Linked DNA regions of Homo sapiens. The protein of the gene in region 2 interacts with the protein of the main gene of each other region in a pairwise test. Each region holds a gene or a part of one and is shown on either strand. Other genes may lie near its edges. The genes, in order: CYB5R3, UBIAD1, CD33 and ASGR2.

The links.
Region 1: the proteins of UBIAD1 (region 2) and CYB5R3 interact in binary tests that used the Homo sapiens proteins (3 or more experiments, as listed by UniProt).
Region 3: the proteins of UBIAD1 (region 2) and CD33 interact in binary tests that used the Homo sapiens proteins (3 or more experiments, as listed by UniProt).
Region 4: the proteins of UBIAD1 (region 2) and ASGR2 interact in binary tests that used the Homo sapiens proteins (3 or more experiments, as listed by UniProt).

The regions. Positions count from the first base shown.
Region 1 is NC_000022.11:42,639,376-42,646,397, forward strand, and holds part of CYB5R3 (NADH-cytochrome b5 reductase 3), read right to left. Parts: intron 5,252-7,022; exon of another isoform or gene 5,135-5,251; coding exon of another isoform or gene 5,015-5,134; intron 1,227-5,014; exon of another isoform or gene 900-1,226; coding exon of another isoform or gene 597-899; exon of another isoform or gene 428-596; intron 1-427. Other genes in the region: ATP5MGL (ATP synthase subunit g 2, mitochondrial), read right to left, coding at 597-899. UniProt on the Homo sapiens protein: Catalyzes the reduction of two molecules of cytochrome b5 using NADH as the electron donor.
Region 2 is NC_000001.11:11,268,208-11,276,202, reverse strand, and holds the start of UBIAD1 (ubiA prenyltransferase domain-containing protein 1), read right to left. Parts: upstream 3,006-7,995; 5' UTR 2,672-3,005; coding exon 2,143-2,671; intron 1-2,142. UniProt on the Homo sapiens protein: Prenyltransferase that mediates the formation of menaquinone-4 (MK-4) and coenzyme Q10. MK-4 is a vitamin K2 isoform present at high concentrations in the brain, kidney and pancreas, and is required for endothelial cell development.
Region 3 is NC_000019.10:51,221,150-51,228,079, reverse strand, and holds the start of CD33 (myeloid cell surface antigen CD33 isoform 1 precursor), read right to left. Parts: upstream 3,001-6,930; 5' UTR 2,989-3,000; coding exon of another isoform or gene 2,962-2,988; coding exon 2,925-2,961; intron 2,863-2,924; coding exon 2,482-2,862; intron 2,278-2,481; coding exon 1,999-2,277; intron 1,772-1,998; coding exon 1,724-1,771; intron 1-1,723. UniProt on the Homo sapiens protein: Sialic-acid-binding immunoglobulin-like lectin (Siglec) that plays a role in mediating cell-cell interactions and in maintaining immune cells in a resting state.
Region 4 is NC_000017.11:7,104,823-7,111,844, forward strand, and holds part of ASGR2 (asialoglycoprotein receptor 2), read right to left. Parts: intron 4,067-7,022; coding exon 3,950-4,066; coding exon of another isoform or gene 3,914-3,949; intron 3,736-3,913; coding exon 3,640-3,735; intron 3,086-3,639; coding exon 3,014-3,085; intron 2,496-3,013; coding exon 2,409-2,495; intron 2,330-2,408; coding exon 2,178-2,329; intron 1-2,177. UniProt on the Homo sapiens protein: Mediates the endocytosis of plasma glycoproteins to which the terminal sialic acid residue on their complex carbohydrate moieties has been removed. The receptor recognizes terminal galactose and N-acetylgalactosamine units.

The DNA.
Region 1 (7,022 bases), on a different chromosome or scaffold from region 2:
CCAGCACTTTGGGAGGCCGAGGCAGGTGAATCACCTGAGGTCAGGAGTTGGAGACCAGCCTGGACAACATGGAAAAACCGCGTCTCTACCAAAAATACAAAAATTAGCCAGGTATGGTAGCGGGCGTCTGCAATCCCAGCTACTCAGGATGCTGAGGCATGAGAATCACTTGAACCCAGGAGGCAGAGGTTGCAGTGAGCCGAGATCATGCCACTGGACTCCAGCCTGGGTGACAAGAGCCAAGACTCCATCTCAAAAAAAAAAAATTGAATAAGGCTTGTGGATTAGATAATAGTGTTGTACCAATGTTACTTTCCTGTAATTATTCTGTGGTTACGCAAAGGAATGTCCTTGTTCTTAGGAGATACACACTGAAATATTTAGGGGCAAAGGGGCAACTTACTCTTAAATGGTTCAAAATATAGACACAGTTGACCCTTGAACATGGGTTGGAACTGCTTGATTCACTTTTTTTTTTTTTTGGAATTTCTGACAAATCTTATTTTATTCAGATAGCAGTCTGATCACACCTGGTCCAACAACACTCAAATAATAAATCAAATATAATCAGATGTTAAGACTGGTCTTCAAACATTCTAGCCAATGATGCCACGCTTGCCTGTGATCTCTCTGACATAAAACCACGTCGACACCTCAGTGGCCACCAAACCGTTCAGCAAAGCTTCCTTAACTGTGAGCTGTTTGAAGCTACCAGTCTGAGCACTACTGACTATTTTTTTCAGGCTCTGAATAGCTCTAGGGATCTCAGCAGGGGTGGGAGGAACCAGCTCAACCGTGGTGTAGTACCAAAATGCGGCCAATCGAGGCTTCAAGTAAGTCACAGCAGCATTCACCAGTGCTGGGGTCTTCTCCACAAGGTTACGGACAAATGGAGCCATGGTTCTGGGATGGAAAGTCCATCATCCCGAATGGCCAGCTGAAGGTCACCCCCCGGAAGGACCCTGCGTGGTTCACTTATTTATTTATTTATTTATTTATTTATTTATTTATTTATTTATTTGAGATGGAGTCTCACTCTATCACCCAGGCTGGAGTACAGTGGTGTGATCTTGGCTAACTGTGACCTCCGCCTCCCGGGTTCAAGTGATTTTCCTGCCTCAGCCTCCCGAGTAGCTGGGATTACAGGTGAGCACCACCACGTCTGGCTAATTTTTGTACTTTTAGTAGAGACAATGTTTCGCCATGTTGGCCAGGCTGGTCTTGAACTCCTGACCTCATGATCCACCCACCTCGGCCTCCCAAAGTGCTGGGATTACAGGCGTGAGCCACTGTGCCCGGCCAGGACCCTGAGTGGTTCACTTATACAAGGATCTTCTTCCTCTTCTGTCACCCGAGACAGCAAGACTACCCCCTGCCTCCTCCTCAGCCTTCTCAACGTGAGAACAAGGATGAAGACCTTTATGATGATCCACTTCCTCTTAATGAATAGTAAATATGTTTTCTCTTCCTTATGATTTTTTTTTCTCTTTATTTATTTTTTGAGACGGAGTCTTGCTGTCACCCAGGCTGGAGTGCAGTGGCACGGTCTCAGCTCACTGCAACCTCCAACTCCCAGGTTGAAGCAATTCTTCTGTCTCAGCCTCCCGAGTAGCTGGGATCACAGGCGCACGTCACCACTCCTGGCTCATTTTTGTATTTTTAGTAGAGACAGGGTTTCACCATGTTGGCCAGGCTGGTCTTGAAGTCCTGACCTGGTGATCCTCCTGCCTCGGCCTCCCAAAGTGCTGGGGTTACAGGCGTGAGCCACCACGCCCGGCCCCTTATGATTTTTAAAATAACAGTTTTCTCTAGCTTACTTTACTGTAAAAATATAGTATATAATACATACAATATACAAATATGTTATTGGTAAGGCTTCTAGTCAATAGTATATTAGTAGGAAAGTTTTGGGGGAACCAGAAGTTATACATGGATTTTCTTTTTTTTTTCTTTTATTTAAGACAGATCTGGCCCAGGCTGGAATGCAGTGGCGCGATCTTGTCTCACTCCAACCTCCGCCTTCTGGGCTCCAGCGATTCTCCTGCCTCAACCTCCCAAGTAGCTGGGATTACAGGCGCACGCCACCACACTTGGCTAATTTTTATTTTCTGTTTTGTTTTGTTTTTTTGAGATGGAGTCTGGCTCTGTCACCCAGGCTGGAGTGCAGTGGTGAGATCTCAACTCACAGCAACCTCCACCTCCCGGGTTCAATCGATTCTCCTGCCTCAGCATCCCAAGTGGGTGGGATTACAGGCGCCCACCACCACACCCAGTTAATTTTTGTATCATTAGTAGAGACGAGTTTTCATCATGTTGGCCAGGCTGGTCTCGAACTTCTGACCTCAGGTGATCTGCCTGCCTTGGCCTCCCAAAGTGCTGGGATTACAGACATGAGCCACAGCGCCTGGCCAATTTTTGTATTTTTAGTAGAGCCGGGGTTTTTTCTCATTGGCCAGGCTGGTCTCATCGAACTCCTGACCTCAAGTGATCCACCCGCCTCAGCCTCCCACAGTACTGGGATTACAGGCATGAGCCACTGCACCCAGCCTATACGTGGACTGTCAACTATACAGGTCAGCCCCTAACCCCCATACCATTCAAGGGTCCACTGTATGGATATGCACACATGTAGTATCTAATATATTTAACATACATTAGATATATACTGTATAGAGAGAAATAAAGCAAATGTAGCAAATAATAACATTAGGTACATCTGGGTGAAGAGTACATAAGAGCTCTTTTTTTTTTTTTGAGACAGGGTTTCACTCTATCACCCAGGCTGGAATGCAGTGGCGTGATCTCAGCTCACTATAGCCTTGACCTCTTGTACCCAAGCAATCCTCCCAGCCCAGTCCCCGAAGTAACTGGGGCTACAGGCACGTACCACCAGGCCTTGGTAATTTTTTTGTATTTTTTGTAGAGATGCGGTTTCACCATGTTGCCCAGGCTAATCTCAAACTTCTGAGCTCAAGCCAACAGCCAGCCTCAGCCTTCCAAGTTCTAGGATTGCAGGTATAAGCCCCTGCGTCCAGCCCATAAATGTTCTTTTACAGTAACTTTGAAATTATTATTTTTTTTGAGATGGAGTCTCGCTCTGTTGCCCAGGCTGGAGTGCAGTGGCACGATCTCAGCTCACTGCAAGCTCTGCCTCCTGGGTTCACACCATTCTCCTGCCTCAGCCTCCCGAGTAGCTGGGACTACAGGCGTTCGCCACCAAGCCCAGTTAATTTTTGGTATTTTTAGTAGAGACGGGGTTTCACTGCGTTAGCCAGGATGGTCTCGATCTCCTGACCTCGTGATCCGCCCGCCTCAGCCTCCCAAAGTGCTGGGATTACAGGCGTGAGCCACCTCGCCCGGCCAGTAATTTGAAATTATTTCAAAATAAAAAGTGTGTGAAGCCCATACTGGTAGTTCAACTAGAGAGGCTGAGAAGCCAAAGTTCATATAAAACACTGGCTCTCAAGAAAGCTGTTTCAGAGCTTGTTTATACACCCTCCCCATATACCTCCCTGATTGTAGTTCTCCCAGCAAATGTGCATGTGTGTTCTCTTATCATTACCCTACAAGTTCCCTTTTCACTTTGAGTGCCAGGAAGCTGAGAAACAAGTTCCTTGCATGCGTGCAGGCCTCTCTACTTGCTTTGTGGGACCTGCTACGGGCCCCTTGAGGTAGTATATCCTGCAGAACACAGACAAGTGCCTCTGCTCTATTCAGAGCCAGGTAAGATGCTCCTAACCTCTCAAGGCCTAGCCCCATTGCCCCTCCCCTTCTGGAAACACTACCAGGAGTCCCTACTCTCCAACAATTTGAGGAGGACGCTCTGGTGGAGCCACGTGTCCTGTCTGTAAAAAGCGAGGGCCACTGCCTGGCCTATCTCCTTGAAGCGATGTGAGATGAGATGAGCTGGGGCCCAGGTCACGTAGGGGTCTATAACCTGGGAAGTCCCGGCTCACACACAGGAGCTTTTCCTGCCACCCTCACGGGGCCACTACCAACTGAGAGGAGTGGAATAGCCAAGTGAAGGAAGGGCAGGGTGCTACAACCTCACACCAGGCCTGGCCCCCGCCCCCCCACCCCCCACCCTGCAACGGCCCAGCAGCTCCAAGCTGCCCAGCTACAGTTACAGGTCCTTTGTTGGGCTTAAAACAAAAGGCCTCTCTCCCAGGCAGGGCCTCCATGCTGGGTGCAGCTGAGGCCTCGCTCCATGGGGCCCTTGGTATTTGACCCATGGGTCTAAAGGAAGGGCTGTGGATGCCTAGCCCACCCCTCACCCATGCCCAGGGCCACCCAGCTGGGGTCTCTGGCCACCACCCATTTAATCAGCATGGCCCAGGTGTTTCACTCATCCCAGGCCTCCTTTAAGGCCCCAGTTGGCAGCTGTGGACTTGGGTCAGAGAGACCAGGGTTTGAGTCCCAGCTAAGGATGGCAGGAGAGTCGCTTCACTTCCCCGGGCCCTACCTGGAGGATGGGGAGGGTGGGGAGGAAGGAGGCACACAGCGGTCAGCGCCCCTGAGCTGGCACTGTTCTGAGTAGGGGCCGCGGGTTTCCTGGAATACTCCCCACCTCAACCCTAGGCTGCGGGCACTGTGATCATCCCAGCACGTGAGGAAACTGAGGCCAGGAAAGGGGAGTGACCTGCCCGGAGTACACCAAAGCCAGCCCTCCAAGCATCGCTCACCACATGACACTGTTATCTATCCCTCAGATAGATGAAGTGACCTGCCAAGGTCATATAGCCATTCAGGGTGGGCCGGGAGTGGACTCTCAATGTCCAGCCCAAAGTGCTGCTCTTCCTGAGCCACCTCCCAGGACAGGGGCACTCTTTCTGCTCCAGTCAAAGAGCTCACAGCCCAAATCTGACATCCTGCCTCCCACAGTGAGGCCTGAGCACCTGCCCCCAGCCCCGGGGGTCCGAACCAACAGGCGGCTCCACCCCTCCTCAAATACCCACCATAGCTCCCCACTGCCTACCTGAAGGCACCCTCTCTATGGCCCCAACTCTGGACTCACCTCCCAGCTCTCTGCTCTTTCAACATCAAGCCCATCTTGCTTCAGGCGTTCGCATATGCTCTCCTCTCTGCCCCAAATGTCCTTGCTCTGCATGCATCCAACCAGCAAACTCCTATTCATTCCTCAGAGCCTAGCTCAAACATCAAATCTTCCCTGATGAGCCCTTCCCTAGCTAACCAGGCCCTTGGTAGACTTTTCACAGCCCCTGGTCCCTTCTGGAAACTCCCTGGGGCAAGTACTATTCCGAGGATTCCTCTGCTATCGACCTCTCCCTCAGTCACAGAAACCACGCCCACGTGGAATAGAGTCTAGGGAAAAAGTTGGCCGAAGTTACATTCACAGGAAATCACCATTGTTGGGGGCCCTGGCAATGAACTTGAATGACATTAGGAGCTGGGGTTGTGCTTGGTGCTCCCTGGAGTTCTGTTTTTCCAGCACAGCTGCGTCAGTGCACAGCCCAGCTTAAGGCCCCTCCGCGGGCAGCTGGCTTCACGGGCTGCGAGGCACCTTCCCCCATTTCCTCCCCGGCCCTCCCACAGTGGTGCAAGGTGGGAACAACCAGGCTCCCCGTGTGACAATGAGGGGACAAATGTAGCTCAAGGAGGCCCAGGGTGGAGCCTGGTTTCTGATTTTCTGTTGCTTTCCCACTTCCCTCCCTTGCCCTAAACCTAAACCCATGGAAGTGAGCCTGGGTGGGCGCTGGGCCAAGAAAAAGACACCCGCGTATTAGTGGCTCCGATGGCAAGTCCCCGAATGCTGGCCTCCAACCCCAGGCTGCCGGCTCCCCACAAGTCTCCAGAAGTGGCCCTGGAGCAGACCGCAGGATCTGTGTCTGTCGTCACCACTGTATCCCCAACACTCCACACAGAAAGCACTCAACAAATATTTGTGGAATGAATTAGTGAAGGGACAACAGGCTCCCACCCTCCCAGTGTTTTTATTTTGCCTAGAAGTTTCCAGAACCAGGACAAGAGCCCAGACTCCTGGATGAGGGCGCGGCACAGCCTGTCCTGTTTGTCAGAAAAGCCCGCTTGTCCTCCAAGAGCACAGGCCTCAGAGGTGGGCTTAGGATCCGGCTCCAGGCTGTTTCCACGCCTGTTCCACACTCAGAGAGGACATACGCAGCTCCCGTGGCTGAGCTGGGAGTCAAGCACTGCTCAGAAGGCCAGGCTCGCCGTGGGCAGCAGATGAGAGTCAAGGACCTTCCTTCCAGTGTCTGCTCCCAACAACAGGGGCTGCCCGGAGCCAGGCGGGCAGCCTCTGCTCACGCCACCTCATTCAGTCCTCAAGCCTGTTCATGACTCCTCCCACTTCAGGTGAGGAAACCAAGCCTCAGGGGACAGACTTGAGCCCGGGGACACTTTCTGGCCACTAAAGAGAAGGGGTGGGCTTTTTATAGGTAAAAGTTCTTATCTGGGGAGGCAGCCACAGGCAGACCATCACCGTCGGTCAGTCGTTTAGTCCACAAACCCCAGTGGGCACTGAGGTGGCAGGTCCCATGTGCAACGCAGGGGACACAGGCCAGGAGGCCCCGCCCGAGTTCAAGCCAGACGGGGAGACAGACACCGGCAGAGAGGGCGCACCACAGCCAGGAGCAGTGGAGGGGCGAAGGTTTCACCTCCAGAAAGCCAGAGGCCCTGCCAGACTCACACGGTGGGGTGCACTCTCTTCCTACCCACACGGGTTGGAACAGGCTCTGCCCCGTCCTCGTCCACAGCACCACCCCAACCCTCACCAGCAGTGGGCCAAGTAAACAGAAGGCAGGTGGCTGAGGCCAAGGTCCCACCCCTGTGCCTCCTCACCTGTGCTGCGTGCACACTCACACACACACTCACACACACAGACCACCTCACCCCAGCCACCTGGGGGCCCAGGAGACAGCTGCCTCCCAGCCCCTGACCTAATGCCCACAAGCCATGCTCTGCCCCACCAGGGAACCCATCACCCGCCTCTCCTTGCCTCTAATAACACAGAGGGGAAGAGGGACACAGGGTGCCAGAGTCCCAGG
Region 2 (7,995 bases):
GATACAAGCCACCAAACATCGCTTGCCTGGATTATTCAAGAGCTTCCTACTTGGTCTTCCTGCCTCTACCCTTGCCCCACTCCCCTTGATCCATTCTCAATACCTTACCCAGAGCAATTCTTTTAAAACATTATATTACATCACTCCCTTGCTCAAAGTCCTGCAGTGGCTCCTCCATTCCAGAGCCAAGACCAGTGGCCTACAAGGTCTATATAATCCGTGTGTGTGCCTCCTTACCCTCCCCAAACGTACTTCTCTTACTTTACCTCTCTTTACTCTCTCCTTCATTCACACACTGGACTTCTTGCTGCTCTGTAAGCTCTTTGGACACATTCCTGCCTGAAGGCCTATGGCACTTGCTGTTGCTTTTCCTGAAATGCTCCTCTCTCAGATATCTGCTTGGCCAACTCCCTCACCTCTTACCTCCTTCAATGTAACTCAACTCAAATACTACCTTTCTGAGGCATGGTCTCACTCTGTCGCCCAGGCTGGAGTGCAGTGGTGTGATCAGGACTCACTGCAGCCTTGACCCCTGGGCTCAAGCAATTCTCCCGCCTCAGCCTCCAAAGTAGCTGGGACCACAGGCAAGCACCACCATGCCCAGCTAATATTTTTTATTTTATATTTTATACAGACAGGGGTCTATGTTGCCCAGGCTGGTGTTTAACTCCTGGCCTCAAGCGATCCTCTCGCTTCAGCCTCCCAAAGGGCTGGGATTACAGACATGAGCCACTGCACTCAGCCAAATGTTACCTTTTTGATGAAGCCTACCCTGATCAAACTACTTAAAATAGTAATCTGTGTCCCATTCTTTGCTCTACTTTTTTTTCCCATAGCACTTATCATCTTTCATATACTATAATCAGGGTGATCAATTCAACCTGACTTACCAGGAACTTTTCTGGTTTTAGCTCCAGAAGTCGCACATCCGACTTAGTCCTGTCACCTTAGTCCTGAGCAAACCAGGATATTGGTCACCCTAACTATAATTTTCTATTTTTACTTTCTGTCTCTTTTCATGATAATACGTAAGTTTCACAAGGGCAGGGATCTGTGACTGCTGTGTTCACACAGAACAGTGCCTGGCACATAATAGGTGCTCAATAAATAGGGCTTACCCACCTGCCCATCACTACCTTAATCAGCCTCTTGCAAGAAGTCACCTAGCAAACTAGCTAGAAGTAATTATCTATATCATTTTGAACTCTTCAGATTTAATTCTAATATTTGAAACTGTGGCATTATAAAGTATGAGTGATTAAAAAAAAAAATGAGACAGAAAAAATGTCCATATAGGCCGGGCATGGTGGCTCACGCCTGTAATCCCAGCACTTTGGGAGGGCAAGACAGGCAGGTCATGAGGTCAGGAGTTCAAGACCAGCCTGGCCAACATGGTGAAACCTTGTCTCTACTAAAAATACAAAAATTAGCCAGGCGTGGTGGCACATGCCTGTAGTCCCAGCTACTCGGGGAGCTGAGGCAGAAGAATCGCTTGAAGCCGGGAGACAGAGGTTGCAGTAAGCCGAGATGGTGCCACTGCACCCTTGCCTGGGCAACAGAGCGAGACTCTGTCTCAAAAAAAATAAAAAAAATTAAAAAATGTCCTGACAGGGCGCGGTGGCTCACGCCTGTAATCTTAGAACTTTGGGAGGCTGAGGCGGGTGGATCACGAGGTCAGGAAATCGAGACCATCCTGGCCAACATGGTGACACCCCGTCTCTAATAAAAATACAAAAATCAGCCAGGCGTGGTGGCGTGCACCTGTAGTCCCAGCTACTCGGGAGGCTGAGGCAGGAGAATCGCTTGAACACGGGAGGCAGAGGCTGCAGTGGGCCGAGATCGCACCACTGCACTCCAGCCTGGGCGACAGAGCGAGACTCCGTCTCAAAAATGAATACATAAAAAATAAATAAAAATAAATGTCCATATAAAATTTTCAGTCATGCCCTACGTCCGTAAGTCAAACCAGGATCTTCTCAAATCACTGTTTCAAAAAATTCACATCACCCACAATTATAGACTTCAATTAAAGCGGCTTAAATTAGAAAGCCACCTTTGACATCCCTATAACTCCTTTACAAAGCAGCGGTTTCCAGTGGACGCGACTAAGACCTGCAGCACACAGGACAGGCCAAATCTTACCTCCTGTGTAGAGAAAGGAGCCAGACAGGCCTCCAAAGTAGATAAGAGCCAAGTGCTCCAGTTTCAGAGGGGACAGGTAGTAGAGGCAAGCGGCACAGACGCAGCCCAACGTGTAGAGGAAGACTCCGAACCGGACGACATCCTGCGGCTCCAAGATTCGGTCCACAAGTGTCCTGTCATCACTCTTTTTGTGGTCAATGCCCTTGGAAAAGTCATAGTAAGTGTTGACCAAATTACCGGCCCCGTGCACAGCCAGGACAGCCACGGCACAACCCACCAAGAGCCTGGGATCCAGGACACCGTGGGATCTGTAGGCAAGGGCACTGCCCAGGGCCACCGGTGTGAGTGAGGCACTGAAGCTCCAGGGCCTCAGGGCCAACACGTAGGAGGCACACTTCTGCCTCCAGGAGCGCTGGGGGAGCCTATCTTGCTCGGGACAGTCGTTCCCCAGCGGGTCCCTGTCCCCAGCTTTGACAGTCTCTCCCGACAGGATGTTAATCTTCTCCCCCAGGACCTGAGAGGCCGCCATGGAAGCTCCACGTGGTTGAAGTAAACTCTAAAAGTGAGCCACGCACAGTGACCGCCCGGGAAGGAGGAAGGACGGGGCGGGGCAGCAGGGCCCGACCTTCCTTCGGTTCCGCCCCAGGACAGGGCTGGTGTGGCGGCAAGGTCCGGGGGCAACAGCAAGTGGGTCTTACACCCCACGAGGCCAAGCGGCGCCGCCCCTACTACCCGTCACCTGGGCGAAGTCTGTCTCCGGCCCCCAGCCCCGCGTTAGAGCCCACGGCTGAGCCGCGGCCGCCTTCTTTAGGCCGCCAGAGCCGCCATCTTGTGCGCCGGCCTCTGGAGGCCCGCCCGGAAACAGGTGCCGGCGGCGCGGGCTGGACCGGAGGGTGGGCTGGAGGGCGGGAGGGGGCGGGGCCGAGCCAGAGGCGGGGAGAAGGGCGGTGAGGGGTGGGGGGCGGGGGCCTGGTCAGAGGCGGGGCGGGCAGGGCCGAGTCAGAGGAGGGGCGGGGTCAGAGGCGGGGAGAAGGGCGGTGAGGGGTGGGGCGGGGCTGAGGGGCGGGGCCAGACCGGTGGTGGGGCGGGAGGGGGCGGGGCCGGGGCGGGAATGGACCGGGAGCGGGGACGGGCCAGGAGCTGGGGCCGGGCGGTGACCCGGCATCCAGCCCTTTTCCTGCCTGCACTGCGCCCCGCAGCTACTTCCAGACTAACTGCAATCAGCCTCTCTTAGCATCATAAGAACTCGAAGGCGTGTTGCTTTAGGACTTACCGGGCGCACTTTCATTCACGAAGTAGGATTCATTAATTTATTCATGCTACAAGCATTTATTGAGCGCCTGCTGTGTGCATACATTCTGACGTCTATCATATCTGCACCGTGGAAATACTCTATGATGTGCTACTGCTCACCTCTTATCAGCTTTTCATTCAGTGACATCCTTCAGCAGCTTGAAATCTGCCCATGGTGGGAGAATTTACACCACGCAAATCAGCAAATGCTTAATAACTGCTAAGTCGTCTAGACTTAAGAAAGTGGCGGAGAAAATGTTCATATTACTGGTTAAACTTAAAAGTGTTGGAGGGTGCGGTGGCTCACGCCTGTAATCCCAGCACTTTGGAAGGCCGAGGCAGGCGGATCACTTGATGTCAGGAGTTCGACATCAGCCTGGCCAACATAGCGAAACCCTGTCTCTACTAAAAATACAAAAATTAGCCGTGCGTGGTGGCAGGCACCTGTAATCCCAGCTACTCGGGAGGCTGGGGCAGGAGAATTGCTTGAACCCGGGAGATGGAGGTTGCAGTGAGCCAAGATCATGCCAATGGGCTCCAGCCTGGGCAACAGAGTGAGACTCCATCTCAAAAAAAAAAAAAAAATTAGCCGGGGGTGGTGGTGCATTCCTGTAATCACAGCTACTCGGGAGGCTGAGGCAGGAGAATTGCTTGAACCCTGGAGGCAGAGGCTGCAGTGAGCCAAGATCACGCCACTGCACTCCAGCCTGGGCAGTAGAGCGAGACTCCGTCTCAAAAAAGAAAAAAAAGAGAGAAAAAAAGTGTGTAAGTGAATGCACCAAAACTTTGAGGAAATATTCGTTCAGCATTGGCAAATTATTATCCAGTTGAACAAATAAGTCGCTTGTAGCCTTGACAAACTAGTGAAGTTCTGACATATCTCTTTTGATTGTTTCACTTTCCTCTTACTCCTAACATAAAATATCAACCAACATTCATGTCTGAACTATGCTCATTGATCAATTGGGACCATAGGGAAGCTACACAACATCAAAGAAAGCATACTGTGAGAACTGGCTATATGGAGTTTACAATAGAGTCCTGTACTGTATATTTTAGTATTTGTAAACTGTATGCTACACATCATTTACATCAGTGAAATTATAATACACATGCAACATAGATGCACACAGGACTGACTACATAATTTGTGGTACCCAGTGCAAACTAAAGAGGTGGAGCTGGGGGTGATAATGTGTGCCTGTAGTCCCAGCTACTCAGGAGGTTTTTTTGAGACGGAGTCTTGCTCTGTTGCCCAGGCTGGGGTGCAGTGACACAATCTCGGCTCACTGCAAGCTCCGCCTCCAGGGTTCACACCATTCTCCTGCCTCAGCCTCCCGAGTAGCTGTGACTACAGGCGCCCGCCACCACGCCCGGCTAATTATTTTGTATTTTTAGTAGAGACAAGGTTTTACCGTGTCAGCCAGGATGGTCTCTATCTCCTGACCTCGTGATCCGCCTGCCTCAGCCTCCCAAAGTACTGGGATTACAGGTGTGAGCCACCGCACCCGGCGGGAGGATCTCTTGAGCTCAGGTTAGAGACCAGCCTGGGCAACAAAGTGAGATCTCCGCTCTAAAAAATTAAAAAGACCAGATGTGGTGGCTCACACCTGTAATCCCAACACTTTGGGAGGACAAGGCAGGTGGATCGCTTGAGCCCAGGAGAAGACCAGCCTGGACCACACGGTAAAAATCGAAGAATTAGCCAGGTGTGGGCCAGGTGCAGTGGCCCACGCCTGTAATCCCAGCACTTTGGAAGGCCGAGGCGGGCAGATCATGGGGTCAGGAGATAAGACCATTCTGGCTAACATGGTGAAACACCATGTCTACTAAAAATACAAAAAAATTAGCCAGGCGTGGTGGCAGGCACCTGTAGTCCCAGCTACTTGGGAGGCTGAGGCAAGAGAATGGCATGAACCCCGGAGGCGGAGCTTGCAGTGAGCCGAGATCGTGCCACTGCACTCCAGCCTGGGCGACAGAGCAAGACTCCATCTCAAAAAAAAAAAAAAAGAAAAAGAAAAAGTAAAAGAATTAGCCAGGCGTGGCAGTGTGCACCCGTGGTCCCAGCTACTTGGGAGGCTGAGGCGGAAGAATCACCTGAGCCTGGGAAGTTGAGGCTGCAGTGAGTCATGATTGTGCCCCTGCACTCCAGCCTGGGTAATAGAGTGAGATCCTATCTCAAAAAAATAAAATAAAATCAATAAATAAGTGGGGCCAGGCCAGGCACGGTGGCTCACGCCTGTAATTCCAGCACTTTGGGAGGCCAAGGTGGTCAGATGACCTGAGGTTGGGAGTTCAAGACCAGCCTGACCAACATGGAGAAACCCCGTCTCTACTAAAAATACAAAATCATCCGGGAGTGGTGGCGCATGCCTGTAATCCCAGCTACTCAGGAGGCTGAGGCAGGAGAATCACTTGAACCCGGGAGGTGGAGGTTGCGGTGAGCCGAGATCGTGCCATTGCACTCCAGCCTGGACAATAAGAGCAAAACTCCATCTCAAAAAAAATAATTAATTAATTTAAAAAATAAAAAAAATAAGTGGGGCCTCTTGTTCAAAATCATTAACAATTGCAAAACAGAGCATGACACAGCTGTGAAGCTAGCTCTGTACATGTCTGCTTCCACTTACCCCCAATCTGGTTGTTGAACATTACAACTTCACCACTCAACACAGAGCTTTCTATGCTGGCCAAACCCATGAGTCATACAATGTCAAATCAGACAATATATCAGCAGATAGATTAAAATCCTGGCTCTATCACTTACCAATTCCATGTCCCAATATCTCTGTTCTTTGGCTTACTTATATATAAGGTGGGAACAATACAACCTGCCTCATAGAAATGCTCAGGAATAATAGTAAACAGCATTTATTGACTTTTCACATGAGCCATATACTTTGTTTGCTTTTGAGACGGAGTCTTGCTCTGTCGCCCAGGCTGGAGTGCAGTGGTGCGATCTCGGCTCACTGTAACCTCCACCTCCCAGGTTCAAGTGATTCTCCTCCTCAGCCTCCTGAGTAACTGGGATTACAGGCGTCTGCCACCATGCTCAGCTAATTTTTATATTTTTAGTAGAGATAGGGTTTTACCAAGCTGATCTCGAACTCCTGACCTCAGGTGATCCACCTGCCTTGGCCTCCCAAAGTGCTGGGATTACAGGTGTGAGCCACCATGCTGGGCCAAGTACCTCTTTTAGGTACTTTACGTGTGGTATTAGCGTTTAACCCCCACAATACTGCCTACCAACGAAGAGACTATAATCCTTCCAGTTTTACACATAAGGAAATAGGTACAAAGTGTTGCAGCCAAATTTCAGATTCAGTTAGTTTGACTTGACTCCAAGCTGCTTTTAACAAGTACTCTATAATGTCCACCAAAATCCCTGATACACTGTAAGTGCTCAATAAATATTAGCTATTATTTTAGTGTAATGCATAAGAAAGTTCTTTGTAGTGGGAGTTGAACAATGAGAACACATGGACACGGGGAGGGGAACATCACACACCGGGGCCTGTTGGGGGTTGGGGGGCTGGGGGAGGGATAGCGTTAGGAGAAATACCTAATGTAAATGACAAGTTGATGGGTGCAGCAAACCAACACGGCACATGTATACCTATGTAACAAATCTGCACGTTGTGCACATGTACCCTAGAACTTGAAGTATAATAATAAAATAAAAAGACTTGCAAAAATACAATAAAAAAGAAAGTTCTTTGTAAACAGAAAAGAAACCGACAAACGCACTTATTACTGTTGCTATAAAATCATCTTTGATTATTAATTAGAAAACAGGGCTGTATCATATCTCAGGGTGGCAAAAATCTCCTATATGGCTGATGGGAATAAAAATTGGTACCTCCCTTATAGAGATCAACTTGACAAGATTCAACAAAACTGTCTAACCCTGTAATCCCATTTCTGGGAATTTATCTTGATATAGCTGTCAGGGAAGAAAATGATATACGTACAAAGGCATTCACTGCAGCATTTGTAATAGCACAAATTTGGACATAACACAAATGTCCATTCACAGAGGACTGGAAAATGAACTATGGCACAGCCATGTGATAGAACACTATGCAGCTGTAGCAACAACAAAAGGACAAGAAACTCTGTGTGTACCAAGATGGAAATGAAACCGTCCCAACAAACTTTATAAAATTAATCAGGGGCCAGGTGCGGTGGCTCACACCTGTAATCCCAGCACTTTGGGAGGCCAAGGCAGGCTGATCACTTGAGGTCAGGAGTTCGAGACCAGCCTGGCCAACATTGTGAAACCCCGTCTCTACTAAAAATACAAAAATTAGGCTGGACACAGTGGCTCACACCTGTAATCCTAGCACTTTGCGAGGCTGAGGCAGGCAGATTACCTGAGGTCAGGAGTTCAAGACCAGCCTGGCCAACATGGTGAAACTTTGTCTTTACTAAAAATACAAAAAATTAGCCGGGTACAGTGGGGTGCGCCTATAATCCCAGCTACTCTGCCGAGGTGCACACCTGTAATCCCAGCTACTCTGGAGGCTGAGGCAGGAGAATTGCTTGAACCTGGGAGGCAGA
Region 3 (6,930 bases), on a different chromosome or scaffold from region 2:
GATACATACACCAATAATACATAATAGAGAACACCGAAATTAATCCACGATCTACAGCCAACTGAATTTTGACAAATGCATGAAGAACACTCATTGAGGAAAGAGCAGTTTCTTTAATAAATGATGCTGGGAAAACTGGTGCCATATGCAGAAGAATGACATTAGACTCACACCTCTCGTCCTATACAAAAATCAATTCAAAATGGATCAAAGACCTGAATATAAGACACAAAATTTAAAAAATACTAGAAAAAAACATAGGGGAAATGCTTTAGGACATTGGTCTGGAAAAATATTTTATGAGTAAGACCTCACTAGCACAAGCAACAAAAGCAAAAGTAAATAAATGAGATGATATCAAGCTAAAAAGCTTCTATGCAGAAAGGAAACAACCAACAGAGTGAAAAGGCAACCTACAGAATAGGAGAAAATATTTGTCAGCTATTCATCTGACAAGTGATTCATATCCAGAACATACGAGGAACTCATACATCTCAATGGCAAAGAAACCCAATCTCATTTAAAAATGGGCAAATTATCTGAGTAGACATTTCTCAAGAAAAGATATACAGATGGCCAACAAGTGTATATGAAAAATGCTCAACGTCACCAATCACCAGGGAAATGCAAATCAAAACCACAATGAGGTAACATCACCCCAGTTGGGAGGACTATGATAAAAAAAAGATGAAAATTAACAAATGATGGTGAGGATGTAGAGAAGAGGGAACTCTTATATACTTTTGACCAGAATGTAAACTAGTATAACCACTATGGAGAAGAGTATGGAAGTTTCTCAAAAAACTACAAATAGAACTACCATATGATCCAGCAACCCCACTACTGGGCATTTATAGAAAGGAAAGGAAATCAGTATATTGAAGAAACGTCTGCACCTCAATGTTTATTGCAGCATTATCCACAATAGGAAGATATGAAATAAACCTAAGTGTCCAACAACAGATGAATAAATAAAGGAAATGTGGCGTATATACACAATGGATTATCATTCAGCCATAAAAAATAATGAAATCTTGTTATTCACTATAACATAGATTGAACTAGAGGACATTATGTTAAATGAAATAAGCTAGGAACAGAAAGTTGAATACCACATGTTCTCACTCATAAGTGGAAGCTACAAGAAGTTGATTTCATAGAAGTAAAAAGTAGAACAGAGAATAATAAGGGCTGGGAAGGTTAGGGGAACAATGATAAGGAGAGAGATTTGTTAAAGGATACTAGATTACACCTGGAAAGGAAGAATAAGTTCTGGTGTTCTATACCACTGTAGGATGACTATGCTTAACAATAATAGATAGCTTCAAATAGCTAGAAAGGGGATATTGAATGTTCCCAACAACAATGAAATAATAAATGTTCAAGATGATGGATATGCTATTACCCTGATCTGATTACTATACATTATTAGTATGGAAACATCACTATGCCATCCATAAATATGTACTATTATTACATATCAATTAAAAATAAAATACCCCAAGACATTCAGAGACAGGAGGGAGACAAAGAGCATTATTTGGATGGGCAAGGGGGAAGTTGCTAGTCATCCCCAAATATCCTTTTCCAAGGTGCCTGATGTCTACCCGTGTCTAACTGCAGGCCTTGCCTCTGAACATTTGACTCTGAAAGTCCAGATCTGACCAAACCTGACACAGACTCAATGTCAGTAACAGCCCCAGGCGGGGAGGCTCCTTCCTACCTGAGCCATCTCCTGGAAAGATACCAGTTGTTGGGTTCTGTGGAACATCTAGGAGAGGAAGAGAGGATTTCCTTCAGTTGGGGGTAGAGATGAGATAAGGGTAGGCATTTCCCCTTACTCCTGCCAGAAACCACAGAAATGCAGAAGGGACAGGGCTCATGTCCTTCTGGCTCCCGAACTCAGCCAGGCCTCCAGGACACTAAATGTCCCCAGCACCAGCCCATCCTGTCTCCCCTACACCCTCAGGGACCCCAGCATCCTGGCCCAGCACTTACAGGTGACGTTGAGCTGGATGGTTCTCTCCGTAGTCACACCAGCTCCAGCGAACTTCACCTGACAGGTCAGGTTGGTGCCGTGGTCCTGGGGCCGTGGGGTGATTATGAGCACCGAGGAGTGAGTAGTCCTGGGGCCCAGGGAGGTGGGGGCAGCTGACAACCAGGAGAAGATCGGGGGTGTTCCCTGCTCACAGGCCCAGGACACAGAGCAGGTCAGGTTTTTGGAGTGGCCGGGTTCTAGAGTGCCAGGGATGAGGATTTTGGGCCTGTGGGTCAAGTCTAGTGAGGAGAAAGAGGGGATGCAGAATCAGGAGGGAGGGTCCAGGTGAGGGCCTGAGAGAAGATCAACCTCTGGTCAAGCTCCCCCGCTAAGCACGACAGGCTTTACCCCTAAACCCCTCCCAGTACCAGGGTCCCATCCCAGCCCTGCCCTGCAGTACCCATGAACTTCCCTTGCGGCCACTTCTGAAGCCTGTGCCTCACCTGTCACATGCACAGAGAGCTGGGGAGATTTGTAACTGTATTTGGTACTTCCTCTCTCCATCCGAAAGAAGTATGAACCATTATCCCTCCTCCTGGCGTCTACGATGCTCAGGGAGCAGTTGTTCCTACTGGGATCCCCAAGGAGGCGGAATCTGCCCTGAGTCTCCTCCTGTACTTCTTGATCTAGCTTGTTTGTGGCCACTGGAGAGTCCCTGGATATAATGGCTCCTTCCCGGAACCAGTAACCATGAACTGGGGAGTTCTTGTCGTAGTAGGGTATGGGATGGAAGAAAGTGCAGGGCACGAGGACGCACAAACCCTCCTGTACCGTCACTGACTCCTGCACTTGCAGCCAGAAATTTGGATCCATAGCCAGGGCCCCTGTGGGGAAACGAGGGTCAGCTCGGCCCAGCCCGACAACCCCTCTCCCCACAGCCACTCACCTGCCCACAGCAGGGGCAGCAGTAGCAGCAGCGGCATGTCTGAGGAAGCAGCTTCCAGGGCTTCCTGTGTGAGCAGAAAAGAGGAAGGGAGTGGAGGGGAAGGACTACAGGGCCGGACAGGAAGCTGGGGAGGAGCAGGAGACCTCAGCCCTGCATGGAAGAGGAACCTCAGACCCACACATGCTCAGAGCTTGTCCCCTCCACACAGATTGACCCTCATGGGCCAGAGATGCCAGAGACCCGCCCAGAGATGGGAGGAGATGGAGCAGAATCTGAGTCTTGCCTTCCAGGAGCACCAGAGCCTGGATCAGTACCTTCAGGGCCATCTGAGACATGCGAACCCCATGTCTAAAGTCCTTCCACTCTGAGGTGCTTTTCTGTGCACAACTGTTTACACCAGGGCTGATCACTGCTGGCCTGGCCCGAGTCGCAGCCTCACCTAGATCCATGGGGTGTTTAGTCCAGCAGGATATAGGATTCTATAGGGTCCGTGTGAGTGTCTGGGGCAGAGAAACAAAGAAGAGTCCTAGGTAAAGTGAAGGTGGCAGCCATTCATTTATTCATTCATTCACTAAAGATATAGTGAGTGACAGAGCAGGAGCACCGTCATCTCGGAGAAACACTGCCTCTTTAAGTTCCAATTTCCTTTCTAGCCTCATGCATTTCAAGGAAATCACTTCTCTGCTAACTACAAGCAACCAGAAAGAGCAGACAGTGAAACACAGATAAGACAGCTCGGGCACAGAGGGAGGTAGGGGGAGAGTCTCTTGAGTTACTGCCAAACTTCACCCTCATACAATGGCCCTAGTAAAACAGTGGGCCTTAATAAGCAAATTCCTTTCCCTTCAGGTGCACTAAGATAGGGAAGCTAAAAGCAGACTCAGTGGGTATGCCTGTAGCTGCAGAAAGATGTATGGGTACAGACACACACCTCTCTCTCCCAGATAAGCACAACAAAGAGACTCAGAAGCAGTCCAAGTCTCTGATAAACTCTCCCACCCTAAATCCTTAAAAACTCTTAGTCTGTAAGAGAGTGTGCCTCTGACTTAACTCGGCCAGAAACTCCTCTCAGGTTTGTTTTCTCTAAAATCTGTCTTGACTGGTGAGCCACCATTCGTGTTTCTTTCCTCTTTCTTTAATTCTTACAGTGAGCCTTTGTGTATAGGTGGGGCTTGAGAAGAGATGCCACTGACCTGATTCCTGCCCTTAAGATACTCCCCATCCATAGCCTCATGTCCTCACCACACACACACATGCTGTCTGGCTTTAGAGCTGTGAAAAGTTGGGAATTTGCCATGTATCATGGTAGCATATTGGAAATTTTAAAAGAAATATGACTATAGAATTTTCCCCTGGCACCTAGTACACTGATTTGCACAGTGTCAATGACATCTCCAAAACAAGAACCATGCAGCATCTTCCTGTGAAACAAAAGGGAGAACACATGTTCTATGAACCAGTGCAGAAAAAACTTCTTTTCCATTCATGCTGCCATTTGGTTCAGTGTGGGCAGAAGCAAGTTTTTTTAGAGGCTCATCATATGGATCAACATTTTCTTTCATGTAAAAATCTGCTTCTCACAGTTAAATATGGCCCAAAGACATAATATTTCCAGACAACATGAGTGGAGTGTACAGAGAAAATTAAACTTTAGGTCCAGCTACATGGTTTTCCATATCACTCTGTGTAGTATGCATCCAGCAAACCGTTGATCCCTGGGACATATTAGTACTTGCCACCATACCTTTGTCAAATCTCTACACACAATAGTATCTAGATAACTCTTCATTCATCCTTACTAATAGAGAGGTAGCTGCATCCTCATTTGATATACAACAAATTAAGTCTCCAGTAAATAATATCTGTTGTAAGTTATTTAAATATTTAGCATGTGGCACGTAATAGAAAATTCAATACATTTAGTGCTTTTTTTTTTAAGACAGGGTCTTGCTTTGTTGCCCAGGCTGGAGTGCACCGGCCTGACCACAGTTCACTGCAGCCTTGACCTCCCAGACTCAAGTGACTCTCCCACGTCATCCTCTCTAGTAGCTGGGATCACAGGCTCATACTACCAGGCCGGAGTAACTTTTTGTTTTTATGTTTAGGAGAGATGGGGTCTTGCTATGTTCCCCCAGGCTGATCTTGAACTCCTGGGTTCAAGCAATCCTCCCACCTCGACCTCCAAAGTGCTTTGACTATGGGCATGAGGCACTGTGCCCAGCCACATTTAGTTTTAACAATAAAGTCATACTATGTTCATGGACCAGAAGATCAAATATGAATATGTGAGTCTTACTGTGTTTCTTTAATGAATTTAATTAGGTATAATTTACATGAAATAAAGCACACCTACTTGAAGTTCACATTTGCATGAGATTTGACGAGTATGTACAGCCTGTATACTCACCACACTGCAGATATACAGCATTTCTAGTATGCCAAGGGCTTTTCTTCCCACCTTCTATGCTGGGCAACCACTGATATGTCCTCTTTCATTGTGAGTTAGTCTATTTGAAAATCTCCTAGAGATGTGTTAATTTGTGTCTGTATCCTATGACCCAGCATAATATTTTTTGAAACTGAACCACGTTGTTTGTGTCTGTATTTCAAAATGTGATATTGTTAAGTAGTATTCCATTTATGTGTATACTATAATGTTTTATTTCTCACCTATTGATAGACAAGGATTTTCCAGTTTTCTCCCTACAGGTATTCAGGTACAAGTCTTTTTACATACATGGTTTTATACTAATTGGTATACACAGGAAGATAAATAGTCAGACTAATGACTACTTGTAAGTTTAACCTTAGTAGGAATTGCCAAACTGTTGTCCAAAATGGTTTTGACTTTTTACCACTCCTCCTAGCCATGTGCCAGAATTCCAGTAGCTCCACACCCTTGTCGACGTATGATACTGTCCTGCTTTATATTTGAACAATTCTAGTGAGAGCATAGTGGCATCCAGTGTTTTAAATTTTTTAATTTATTTAAAGTTAGATACAGTTGAATTAACTCTTTATCATATGCAATTTTGATATGGTTTGAGAGTTGTATATAATTATATACCCACAACCACTGTGAAGACACTGAAGAGTGTCATTAACCAAACGTTCCTTCCTCCTGTCTCTGGGTAGTCAACCCTCCCTCCACACTTAGTCCATGAAAAAATGCTGATATGTTTTCCATCCCTACTGTATTGCCTTTTCACAGAATGTCGTATAAATGGAATCATACAAAATGTTGCCTCCAAAGTCTGGCTTCATTTACTTGGTGCAGTGCCTCTGAGGTTCAATCATGTGGTTGAGTGTATGAATCTATAGTTTGTTCCCTTTAATTGCTGACTCGTAACTCACTGTTTTTATGGACCCCCCATTTTGTATGCATTTACCATTTGAGGAGCATTCAGATTGTTTTCAGGTTTGGGTGACTATGAAATAATGTTGTTATAAATATTGGCATGCAGGTTTCTGTGTGTAACTGTAAGTTTTTATTGCTCTTGGGTAAATACTTAGGAGTCAGGTGCCTGGTCCTATGGTAAGTGTTCAGTTTAAATTTATAAGAAATTGTCAAACTGTTCTCCAAAGTTGATGTGCCATTTTGTATTCCCACCAGGAGTTATGTGTGAATTCTGATTGTTTCACATCCTTGTTAACATTTGATATTATCAGAATATTTAAACATTTCTTTTTATTTTTGTTTTGTTTTCTAGTTATGTTCTCAGGTATGTAATGCTACCTAAGAATGCTTATTCTCCTGATTTATAATTACCTAAGGACAAATGATCTTTAGTATGTTTTCATGAGCCTGTTTGCCATCTGTTTTTCTTTTCTGGTGAGGTGGCTGATAAAACCTTTGGCTACCTTTTTAAAATATTGTGTTAGTTCATTCTTGGCTTGCTATAGAGGAATATCTGAGACTGAGTAATTTATGAAGAAAACAGATATATTTTGGCTCACAGTTCTGCAGGCTGTGCAAGAAATGTGGTGCTGGCATTTGCTTCTGGTG
Region 4 (7,022 bases), on a different chromosome or scaffold from region 2:
AAAGTTAGCCAGGCACGATGGCGGGTGCCTGTAATCTCAGCTACTCGGGATACTAAGACAGGAGAATTGCTTGAACCTGGGAGGCAGAGGTTGCAGTGAGCCAAGATCGCGCCATTGCACTCCAGCCTGGGCGACAGAGCAAGACTCCATCTCAAAAAAAAAAAAAATTTTTTTTTTTTTTCAGATACAACACTTAAGGAACCTAGGAAAGGAAAGACTCAGACACATGGGAATAAGAGGTATCCTGGTCTCCTCACCTTTCCTATGGAAGTTATACAAACTTTTAGTTTTCAAAGCCAATAATTTTCAGCCTATTATTTAAAGTTATACAAGTAATCACTGGAATAACTCTAAATAAACTACATAGTTTCCAAAATACCATAAAGAAGAAAACAAAAAGAACACCTCTCACATAGCAATTGTAAGAAAATTAAGAAGCATGTAAAGCAGAAAAAAGAAAGGACTAGGGTTAAACATATCTATTAGAATGTAAATGAGACACTCACCTATTAAAAGAAAAGGTACTTATTAGATTTTTAAACATCAAAAACAAAACCTGCCAGGTGCAGTTTTTGGATTACAGTGGCTCAGACACCTGTAATCCCAATATTTTGGGAGGCCCAGGCGGGCGAATCGCTTGAGGCCAGGGGTTCAAGACCAGCCTGGGCAACATGGCACAACACCATTTCTACTAAAAATGCAAAAAACTACCCAGGTATGGTGGTGTGCACCTGTAGTCCCAGCTACTTGGGAGGCTGAGGTGGGAGAATCCGTTGAGCCCGGGAGGCACAGGTTACAGTGAGCTGAGATCATGCCACTGCACTCCAACCTGGGCGATAGAGCCAGATCTTGTATCAAAAACAAAACAAAACAAAAAACCTATATAGGAGAAATACCTTAAGCTTAGCTGCCCTGTGCTGCCCCTCAGGGAATGGTCCAGGATGAAGCCAAGATTAATTTAAATTAGCATTTTTTTTTTTTTTTGAGTCAGAGTCTCGCACTGTCACCCGGGCTGGAGTATAATGGCGCAGTCTCAGCTCACCACAACCTCTGCCTCCCGGGTTCAAGTGATTCTCCTGCCTCAGCCTCCTGAGTAGCTGGGATTACAGGCACCCGCCACCATGCCCGGCTAATTTTTGTATGTTTAGTACAGATAGGGTTTCACCATTTTGGCCAGGCTGGTCTCGAACTCCTGACTTCATGATCCGCCCACCTCGGCCTCCCAAAGTGCTGGGATTACAGGCGTGAGCCACTGCACCCGGCCTAAATCAGCATTTTTAAGGGCGAGATCCAGGAGTCGATATATTTTTTTTAACTCTTGAAGAGATTGCAATGTACAGTCAAGACTGAGAATCATTAATTTAAAACAGAGATTCAAAAAGGTAAGAAACAAAAGGATGGACAGAGATACAGCAAGCAAATGCAAGTGACAAAAAAATCAAGGACCGTGGTATTTATATATCAGATAAATTCAAGGCAAAAAGCATTAACTGGGACACACGTTGGCTTCATAGTGACGAAAGCACCGTCCACCACGAAGTTGTAGTGGTCATGAGCTTATTGTGTGCCAAATCACAGAGCACTGAGATCTTAGGTTGAACTGCATGAAACTGACATTTTTATAGGTCAAAACTGATGAAATGTTGGCAAGTTCAACCTGATCAGTAAAGCAAAATATGTTCGTACTCACAGTATGCTGTAAAGTACTAACAGAGCCTGATGTAATGCAAACAATACATATATTCTGGCCCCTGTATCATATGGCTTAACTACTGTGGCATTAAAATACTTTGAAGTTCAGCCAGACGCGGTGGTTCACGCCTGTAATCCCACCACTTTGGGAGGCGGAGGTGGGCGGATCATGAGGTCAGGAGTTCCAGACCAGCCTGGCTAAGACGGTGAAACCCCGTCTCTACTAAAAATACAAAAAAATTAGCCGGGCATGGTGGCACGTGCCTGTAATCCCAGCACTTTGGGAGGCCGAGGCAGGAGAATGGCGTGAACCCAGAAGGCGGAGCTTGCAGTGAGCCGAGATCGTGCCACTGCACTCCAGCTTGGGCGACAGAGCGAGACTCCATCTCAAAAAAAAAAAAAAAATGGATAAAATAAGCCTGATCCAGCCTCCCAGAGCAGGCCTTCCAAGGGCTTCCTCCTGCCTGTGGGAAGCGTGGCCTCACCTGCTCCTCCCAGGAGTTGATGACCACCAGGTGTGCGTTCTCCAGCTGGCAGTACTTCTCCGCCTCAGCCCAGGCCTTCCCGGAGTGAGAGAACCAGTAGCAGCTGCCTTGGTGCTCCACCCAGTTGACGGGGCAGCAGGTCCTTTGGGAGCCTGAGGGGACAGGGGGCAGGGAGATGAGATCCAGCCGGAGGGGCAGGCACACTGGGCCTGGAGACGGCCCCACCCCTACCGTTGCTGTGGAGGAGCTCCATCTGGCAGGCCACGAAGCGCAGGTCCACGGGGAAGTGCTTCAGATGGAAGAGCAGGGCATCGTGATCTAGGACAGACAGGCTGAAAGTGCTGCCGGCAGGTGTGGTCCCCACCTGCTAGGCTCCAGCCTGTGGCTGGGGAAGCATATACACCCACAGACACGTACACCATGCATAGACCACACCACACACCATACCACACACACACCACAGACATGTACACCACACATAGACCACACCACACACAGATCCATCACACACACACAAACACACCAAGAGACACACCACACACATCACATGCGTACACACACATATACCATACCGCACACACACAGACTCATCTCACACACACCACCACACATGCATACACACACAACACACACATATACACCACACTACACACCACACACAGATCCATGACATATCACACCACACATACGGAGAGAGACACAGATACACATGCTTGCAGGCACACACACGCACGCACGCACACGTGCACACTACACACACCGCACACGTACACACTACACACACCGCACACGTACACATGCACGCACATGCGCACACACCCCGGAGGCTCTCTGACCTGCTTTCAGGTCCTGCTGCTGTTTCTCCAGCTTGGCTCCTAGGGATGTGATCTTGTCACCCACGCTGCCTCCTGGAAGCGGAAAGCCAGCTGTTTCCCCGCTGAGCCTCCCTCCGTCCTCATGCTGCTGGGGGACCGGGGGCCAGCGCCTCGTCCTGGGCGATGCAGGCGTCCACCTCCTGGCTTCCTGGACCACACCCAGGCTCCCTGCACTGCCACAGTGGCTCAGGCCACTCTCCTGCTTCAGTCCCTTCAATGGGTCCCCATTTTCTCAAAATAAAGCCTCGCTCTGTCAGCACGGCTCACCTGCGTGGCCGGGCCCCTCCCCACCTCTCTCTGGCCACCCCTTACCTGCCTGCCCCTCCGATGGGCCTGCCACACTCGATTTGCTCACAGGCCCAAGACATGGTGCCTTCCTCACCTCCGGGTGTCGCAGATCCAACCTCTCCACCTGGCACTAACCTCGTCCGTCCCCACCTGCCTCCCTCCTATACATCCCCCAGGGCCCCTGGACGCCTTGCCCAGCCTGCACCCCCACGGCACCCCACACAGCCCTGTTGCAGACTCGGCACTGAGCCCAGCAAACCTGTGCGGATAAATGAGAACCCAGCCGTCCAGCCCCTCACCGTGGGTGCTGATTGCCTGGACCTCCGTCAGGGTGCTCGAGGAGAAGTTGCTGAAAGCTTCCTTCAGGCTCCGCAGCTCGGCTTGCAGCTGTGCACCTTGTCAGGTGGTAGTGGGGGCAGGATGAGGCAGAGGGGCCGTGTCCCCATCACTGTCCATGTGACTGGCCCCTCAATGTCCCCGCATTTGCCCCAGCTTGTGCTCCACCCCGCCTCCATCCCTTCCCCTCCCATCGCCCCGATCGCTGCCCGCCACTGCCCATGTCTCTTTCCCTACCCCTTGCCCATCCCTGCTGGCCCCCGTGACCCTCACTTTGGGACCCAGTCACACAGATGACCACCAGCAGCAGGATGTTGAAGCTCAGGGCAAGCAGACTGAAGCAGACCATGGAGCAGAGACGCTGTGCCAGGGGCTGGGCAGGAGGTGGCCCTGTGGGAGAGGGGCATCAGGAGCCGGCAGCCTGGGTGTGGGGAGCCGGAGGGTAAAGACAGGGCACCGAAGCCTGAGGAGGCATAACCTGGGCGGGGGGATTGGTTGGGGCCATGGGGGGGGGTCATCATAGGCTTTGACCCCAGCATTTGAGCATTACACACACACTCTTACACACTCGCACCCATATTACCATGTATAAATATACACACGCAGCTAATCTGGTGCACACACACCCATGCACACGACTCAGGATATTCACATCAGCTGTGTGCAAAGCCCGGATCCTGGAGCTGGGGGACTGGGAGACGCACAGGGGGCGGGGGGGCAGACCCGGCCCTGCCTAGGCACACATCCTGAGAAGGGGGATCTGTGAATGGTTTTCCTCCCATCCAGCCAGTGGCAGAGGCCTCCAGATCACCTCGGGCCTTAGTCTCAGCTCTTCTAAGGCTCCTGTCCCCTCAGATTGGAGACTCCAGAAGCTGGGCCCTGTGTTCTTCCTAAAATCCATACTGGAACAGTCCCTCCCCTGCCAAAATTCCATTGAGATCCTTAAATCTGGGTCATTCCACCATAGCCCACTCTCCAAGCACAACCCTCCAGGTCCCACCTGTTGTCCTCATCCCCCACCACGCAAGGCCTCCTCCCCAGCGCCCTTTGCCCTCGCTTCCCTAGAAACCTCGTTCCACACTAAATTTGCTCCCCTCAGCCCGAGGTCATCTCACAGGTACCTCTCCTGCCCCTTGATCCATCTGCACCCTGACAGCACTGACACACACATTCACATGCCCTCACAAACTCACACACACTCACACACTCACACATTGCTCACTTCACTCAAAAACACACATTTGCACACACTCATGACCACGCTCTGCTGTACCCACTCTCACATGTGCATATGCATGCTAATGCACACATTCATACTCCCTCCCACACACACACACCTGACACACCCACACACGTACACTCACACACCCACGTCTTCCTGCACACAGAGCTGGGCTCCCTCTCTGCTGCCTCCAGACCCAGAGCAGCTCCAGTTGTCCCAGCCCTGAGCTCCTCTCTTTGCAGCATCCACCTGCAAACAGAACACCTTCTAGGCCTTGGACCCTGACTCTGTGGACTTCCTTGTCTTCTCATTCCTATCACCCCCCGACCCAGCAGGACCACATCCTGGGGAGGCTCAGTCAGGGGCCCAGAATCTTCCTCCCCAGGTCACTTCCTGCCACTGTCCTGAGTCAGACACTGCCCCTGTAAGTGACTGTCCATAACTCTTCATCTTTTTCACACCAGTGACTTCCACCTTCCCCACTGCAGCCACACTCAGGACCCCATTTGACCCAGGGAGGCCTCTGACACCTCCACTGCCCACTCCCGCTCTGAGCACAGCCCCACCCTCCCTCTCACTGCCCCCACCCCTTCCTCCAAGGCCTTTGCATTCCTCTCCATCCAGAAGCGCTCCATGACCACGGTGTTCCCCACCAAGCTGGCCCTCCATGGCTGAGTCCCTGACTGCTGTCTTCAGCACCCTCCACTCAGAGGGTCCTGTCCTGCTTCCCAGTCCGACTTATCAACTCCCAATGCTGGGTCAGCCCAGCAACGTGTCTGTATATCCACCCTGAAACCAGACTGCCCACAGGGTAGCCCAGCTGTGCCTCCAGGTAGCTCTGAGATCATGCACCAGCATTCAATTTCTCCATGCTTCCATTTTCTCGTGTGTAAAATGGAGATCACAGTCGTAGCTACCCGATTGGATTGCTCGGATAATTAGATGAGTTAAAATATGTAATGTGCTTCTTAGGCAAAAGTTTGAACATAAAAGACAGGGTCTGCCCAAGATGGGAAGAGTTCTTCTCTCCCCAGAAACAATCAAAACAAAAACAGACAACTATAGAACATGGCAGCTTTCAAGACTCTGGACATCAGGCAAGGAGGAGTAAAGATCCCTGAGGGATAAGAAGCAAACAACAGGAACCCTCCGATCACCCCAGCTTACTGTTTGGAGAGAGTCTGCAGGTTACAGGCCAGGAAAGGGAAGTCCAGGCAGAGCCCAAGAGACTCCCCACGTTGAGGAGATGGAGCTGAGAGTCCGAGGAGACCAAAACAATTAAGAGTTCAAACGATCAAACTGACTCTAAGTTGCTTAACTGCATCCCGGAGCAAAGCTCAAGAACATTTAGAGGAATACAAAAATATCCAGCACCCAACAAGGTGAAATTGACAATGTCTGGCAGCCAATCAAAGATTACAAGGCATGCAATGAAACGGGAAAACACAATGCATAACGAGGAGGTTCATAAATATCAAAAGAGATCCAGAACTGACACGGATGCTAGAATTAGCAGGCAAGGATGGTAAAACAGATATTATAGCCATATCCCATTATGTTCAAAAAATTAAGTAGAATTGTGGAGGATATTTAAGAGTCCCCAGGTGAACTTCTAGAGATAAAAACTACAATGTCTGAAATGAAAAAACACACTGGCCAGGCGCCGTGGCTCACGCCTGGAATCCCAGCACTGTGGGAGGCCAAGGCGGGCAGATCATGAGGTCAGGAGATCGACACCATCCTGGCTAACATGGTGAAACCCCATCTCTACTAAAAATACAAAAAATTAGCCAGACGTGGTGGCAGGCGCCTGTAGTCCCAGCTACTCGGGAGGCTGAGGCAGGAGAATGGCATGAACCCGGGAGGCAGAGCTTGCAGTGAGCCAAGATCGCGCCACTGCACTCCGGCCTGGGCAACAGAGCGAGACTCCGCCTCCAAAAAAAAAAAAAAGAAAAGAAAGAAAAGAAAAAACACACTGGATGGAAATAATGGAAGATGAGAAATGCGTAAGAAAAATTTAGGGCCAGGCACTGTGGATCACATCTGTAATCCCAGCACTTTGGGAGGTCGACACGGGGGGAATCACTTGAGCCCAGGAGCTCAAGACTAGTCTGGGCAGCATGG